2 separate regions of the Homo sapiens genome follow, and region 1 is linked to region 2. Evidence: fine-mapped expression QTL. A gene starts in region 2. The other region holds a variant in brackets. All regions are shown on one strand. Distances are from middle to middle. Region 1 has its middle 71 kb from the start of ADAMTS15. Region 2 holds the start of ADAMTS15 (ADAM metallopeptidase with thrombospondin type 1 motif 15).

What was found. PIP is the estimated chance that this variant, and not a neighbour inherited with it, causes the effect.
Region 1: its variant is fine-mapped to the expression of ADAMTS15 in pancreas (GTEx, PIP above 0.99).

Annotation. Positions count from the first base shown.
Region 1 is chr11:130,518,539-130,521,445 of GRCh38, forward strand. No RefSeq gene overlaps it. Among named protein-coding and RNA genes, the nearest start is that of ADAMTS15, 71 kb to the left of the region's middle. RefSeq lists an enhancer at 1,350-1,851. The variant G/A (reference allele first, on the strand shown) is at 1,846.
Region 2 is chr11:130,447,457-130,450,363 of GRCh38, forward strand. ADAMTS15 (ADAM metallopeptidase with thrombospondin type 1 motif 15) reads left to right here and starts at 1,189. Exons shown (of 8, transcript NM_139055.4): 1 at 1,189-2,474. The coding sequence starts at 1,518.

The DNA.
Region 1 (2,907 bases), 71 kb after region 2:
GACTCAGTGCATAAGGACCAATTTCCACACCTCTGTAATTTCATCCCCCAACCAATCAGCACTCCCTAGCCCCCTGCCCACCAAGCTATCCCTTGCCCAACTCCTAACCTTGGAACTTCCAGGGAGATTGATTTCAGTAATAATTCTGTCTCCCACGTGGTATGGCTGGTCTTGCATCAGTTAAACTCTTTCTTTATTGCAATGCCATGGTTTTGGTGAATTGGTTTTGTCTGTGTGATAGGCAGGAAGATCCCACTGGGCTATGTCTTCTCTCTCCATTGGATGGTTGGATTCTTATAGATAGAATAGTTGGTTCCTTATAGACAGGAAATCTTTCTTTTTGTTCTCCTCTTAGTGCCCAGGGCTGGGTCATGCATATAGTGATATCTATGGATAACTTAAAGAACGTCAGAAACGGCCTCCTCCTAGAACCAAGTTTTTGTGGGAAGACAAACTAGAGAACAGCTGAGTGATTTTCCACAAATTCTTCTATTTCCCAGCAATAGCTTCAAGATCACATCTCTCCTATCCTCTACCCCATGTTTCCCAACACAGAGTTCTGGGTTTGCAGAAACCCAAAGGATTAGGGGACCCCAGGGTCCAAGGAGGTAGCAGAAAGCTGTGTTTCGGCATTCTGGAGCTTGATGCTGGGAGTATAAACATCCTTGCCAGACAAAATATTGGCCCCAGAGCAAAGGCTGGTGGCCACCTTGGCCTTCTTTGCCATTCAGGCCTGGTATCTGCAAGTAGCCCTTTCCTAGCCAAGAACAACAAGCCATGGCTTAGAAGGAACGACATGTGTGAGTATGTGTAAGAGTGCAGAGAAGGCTGAAGGGGAGGGGAAGAGGTGGGGCCAAAGCTTCATACAGGTTGAACCTCCAAGTTTGGGTAGAAGTGGAGATATGGGAACTGCATGAACATGTTTTTAGCTATGGCATTCTTCCTTCAAACTAAAGTTTACTTAGTTTGTACATAAAACAAACCAAGGTGGAGCCGCTCAGGGTGAACCTGGGGCTGAGAGCGGACCGTGGAATCTCCACCAAGCACACGGCCAGAATTGCTGGCATCACAGACCTCATTCTTCTTGCCAAAAAAGGAGGGATATTAGTGGGTTTTTTTTTCTGTTTTGTTTTTGTTTTTGTTTTTTTTTTCTTCCTAAAATTCCTAGAATAGATAGTACTTGACATTTAGCGTGCACTTGGGTTTCCCCATCTTTCCAGGGGGTTATGCAACCTGAAGGTCACATTCCTGCTTTAGGCTCCGGTCTCTCCCTTCTGCTATAGCACAACGCGTCTGAGTGTGATGGCGAGTGGATGGAAGGTTCTGCAGGCTCAGAAAAAGACTGTTAAGTGGGCCATGTACTTAACAGCATTGTTTTTGTCTGGGGTGGAGGCAGCAGGATACCCCGAGAGGGACTGTTGTGTGTATCATGGTGTGTGAGGTGTAGCGATCTGGGTGTCTGTGTGAGGCCTGGTCTCTCCCTTCTGCTATAGCACAACGCATCTGAATGTGATGGTGAGTGGATGGAAGGTTCTGCAGGCTCAGAAAAAGACTGTTAAGTGGGCCATGTACTTAACAGCATTGTTTTTGTCTGGGGTGGAGGCGGCAGGATATCCCGAGAGGGACTGTTGTGTGTATCATGGTGTGTGAGGTGTAGCGATCTGGGTGTCTGTGTGAGGCCTGGGTGGAGGCCTGTGCACGTCTTCTGTGTGTGGTCTTTCCAGCCTCACACTCACGGAAAGCTCTGGTTTGGATGTCACTCTCAGCATTAGAGGCCTTTGGGCTGCTTCCAGCGGAGCTGGTTGGTGTTGAAGGATTATGGGTGATGGCTGTGGGAATGGCACC[G/A]CCTGCCTGGCCTTGGAGGTGGCTGGTTTCCTCTGTATCCCTGGGGGTGGGCAGTGGTGTCACAAGCTGTGTGGGAAAGGAGGGCTACTCGGGGTGGAGCACAGGACAGCTTGGGTGTTGCCTGGGAGGCGTCAGGGAGGAAGGCAGACGTGGGAGTCTTGGGGAATAAGGAGAAAAGGGTTTGAAAACCAGGATAAGGCATTTATCCAGCACTTGGCTGTCTTTATCTCTTAAAATTAAAGCCAGGCCTCTCCTGGAACGTTCCACTTGGGATTCTGCTGGGAAATTAAAAAGACTGGGGAGGGGTGAGTGGTGAGTTGGACTTTTCTGCCTCAGTTGATTGTATATGTGCTGGGTAGGGTGACCCAGAATTTTGGTATTTATTCATTCATCAGTTAGTTTTTGAGTGTCTGCTGTATCCTAAACACTGACTTAAGAGATATGTAAAATAGAAGTCATGATCCCTGCTCTAAAAGAGCTCACTGTCTAGTGGAGAATGCAGACAAATAGACAGATGATCATATGATATGATAGCATCTTCATTTATTCATGCTGAAAAAATCAATAGTTTATATACTATTGATATAATATCCTTGGAGCTATATATATGTGTATATATATGTGTGTGTGTGTATGTGTATATATACATATATATATATATGGTATATATATAAATGGTGTATATATATATATATATATATAAAATTCTCACATGGCTATAAAGGACTACCTGAGACTGGGTAATTTATAAAGAAAAGAGGTTTAATTGGCTCATGGTTCTGTGGGCTGTATGAGAAGCATGGCTGGGGAGGCCTCAGGAAACTTACAATCATGGCAGGAGGTGAAGAGGGAGCAGGCATGTCTTATATGGCCAGAAGGAGGAAGAGTGTGAAGTGGGAAGTGGCACCCACTTTTAAACAACCAGATCTTGTGAGAACTCACTATCAGGAGAACAGTAAAGGGGAAGTCTGCCCCCATGACCTAATTACCTCCCACGAGGCCCCTCCTCCAACACTGGGGATTACAATTCAGCATGAGATTTGGGTGGGGACATAAATCCAA
Region 2 (2,907 bases):
ACGGCGAAACCCAGTCTCTACCAAAAATACACACACACACACACACACACACACACACACACACACACACACACAAATTGGCCTAGCGTGGTGTCGTGTGTCTGTGGTCGCAGTTACTCAGGAGACCAAGGTAGGAGGTAGGAAACCAAGGTAGGAGGATCACCCGAGGTCGGTAGTTCGAGACCAGCCTGACCAACATGGAGAAACCCTGTCTTTACTAAAAATACAAAATTAGCTGGGCGTGGTGGTGCATGCCTGTAATTCCAGCTACTTGGGAGGCTGAGACAGGAGAATGGCTTGAACCCGGAAGGCGGAGTTTGCGGTGAGCTGAGATCGCGTCATTGCACTCCAGCCTGGGCAACAAGAGCAAAACTCCGTCTCAAAAAAAAAAAAATATATATATATATGTGTGTGTGTGTGTGTGTGTGTGTATGTATATATATATATGTATGTGTATATATATGTATGTGTGTGTGTGTGCATATATATATATACACTTTGTTTAATTGTAAGTGTGTTTAGTTTAATTTTTAATAATGTCCGTGATTAACAGCTGGCTGGCAAGATTCCTGAGAACTGAAGAGTTTGCCCCAGCCCATCCAGCACACCATGGGCCCAGGGCAGACCTTGGGGCTAGGCGGTCTTGGGTTCCAGAGGGCTCCCATGCCCCTGTCCTATTGCTCTTCTGGCAATAGGACATTTACGCGGGGGGGGGGGTGGTTCTTGATTCTGGGTCTTTTAGGGGACTCTGTGATTAAGAAACAGCAGGGATGTTGCAACAGCAGGGATGAGGTGGGCCTGGGGACGGGTCAGTGAAGGGTCTTCATTCCTAGCTGCTGACCTGATCTGCCCTGAGATAAAAGACTAAGACCCAGAGAGTGAACGCTGTCCGCGGGGGCAGAAGCGAGTGAGGCGTCGGGACAGTGGGGCATAACCAAGAGCAAAACGCAAACTGAGACTTCAGCGCCGGTTTCTCGGGCCAGCCCACGCCTCCTGCCTCAGCTCAATGCCACTCCCTCCCCGCCAAGTGGCTCTCCGCTCTGGAGGCGGGACCGAGTTCTCCGGTGGCCCCTGGAGGCTCCGGCAGCGAGCTCTGGGAGGCTGGGAGGGGAGTGAGGGGAGGGGCGCTGACTGGGCCGTCCAAAGAGGAGGGGGCCTTTAATAGGCTCGCCCAGCGCCTGGCTTGCTGCGCTGCGAGTGGCTGCGGTTGCGAGAAGCCGCCCGGCACCTTCCGCTAGTTCTCGGCTGCAAATCTTCGTCCTTGCACTTGACAGCGATTGTACTTAAGCTCCCAGGGCGCGCTTTGCTTGGAAAGGCACAGGTAGGAAGCGCGGGCTGCCGGGTGCACGCTCGCCGCCCTGGGAGGAGTCTCCCTCCCTTGGCTCTCCTTTCTGGGAACTGCCGGCTGTCCCGTAGCGTTGGCGGTTCCAGAGTGCGGGCTGCACGGAGACCGCGGCAGCGGCCGGAGAGCCCGGCCCAGCCCCTTCCCACAGCGCGGCGGTGCGCTGCCCGGCGCCATGCTTCTGCTGGGCATCCTAACCCTGGCTTTCGCCGGGCGAACCGCTGGAGGCTCTGAGCCAGAGCGGGAGGTAGTCGTTCCCATCCGACTGGACCCGGACATTAACGGCCGCCGCTACTACTGGCGGGGTCCCGAGGACTCCGGGGATCAGGGACTCATTTTTCAGATCACAGCATTTCAGGAGGACTTTTACCTACACCTGACGCCGGATGCTCAGTTCTTGGCTCCCGCCTTCTCCACTGAGCATCTGGGCGTCCCCCTCCAGGGGCTCACCGGGGGCTCTTCAGACCTGCGACGCTGCTTCTATTCTGGGGACGTGAACGCCGAGCCGGACTCGTTCGCTGCTGTGAGCCTGTGCGGGGGGCTCCGCGGAGCCTTTGGCTACCGAGGCGCCGAGTATGTCATTAGCCCGCTGCCCAATGCTAGCGCGCCGGCGGCGCAGCGCAACAGCCAGGGCGCACACCTTCTCCAGCGCCGGGGTGTTCCGGGCGGGCCTTCCGGAGACCCCACCTCTCGCTGCGGGGTGGCCTCGGGCTGGAACCCCGCCATCCTACGGGCCCTGGACCCTTACAAGCCGCGGCGGGCGGGCTTCGGGGAGAGTCGTAGCCGGCGCAGGTCTGGGCGCGCCAAGCGTTTCGTGTCTATCCCGCGGTACGTGGAGACGCTGGTGGTCGCGGACGAGTCAATGGTCAAGTTCCACGGCGCGGACCTGGAACATTATCTGCTGACGCTGCTGGCAACGGCGGCGCGACTCTACCGCCATCCCAGCATCCTCAACCCCATCAACATCGTTGTGGTCAAGGTGCTGCTTCTTAGAGATCGTGACTCCGGGCCCAAGGTCACCGGCAATGCGGCCCTGACGCTGCGCAACTTCTGTGCCTGGCAGAAGAAGCTGAACAAAGTGAGTGACAAGCACCCCGAGTACTGGGACACTGCCATCCTCTTCACCAGGCAGGTGAGTTGATCTGCCGTCACTTTGCACCCAGATAGTCCCGTTCTTTAGGGTCACCTCCCCTAGCGCTCCAAATCCCCTTTGTATCGTGCAATGCCTCCGAGTTTAAACCTCGTTGATCTCTTCCGACTCCAACTCTGTGGAGTTTCCAGGGAGAGCCCTCTCCCACGCTCCGCGGAGCGGCGGCTCACGTGCATCTGGGCCATTGGAGGAGAGCCTGCGCTTTCCGAAGGTGTTGGCCTGGCGCGGCCAATCAGCGCCTCCTGGATCAGGCGCCGAGGGGCCGGAACCCAGGAAGTTGCCGCCCCGGAGCTGCAGTTTGTGTCCAAGACCGATAGGAGACGCCGTGAGGATGGTGTTGGAGAGGGCGGGAACGGCCCACCCCTATTGTATGGGCGGCTGAGTCTTCTCGGACACCTCCTGAGGTCTCCTTTCA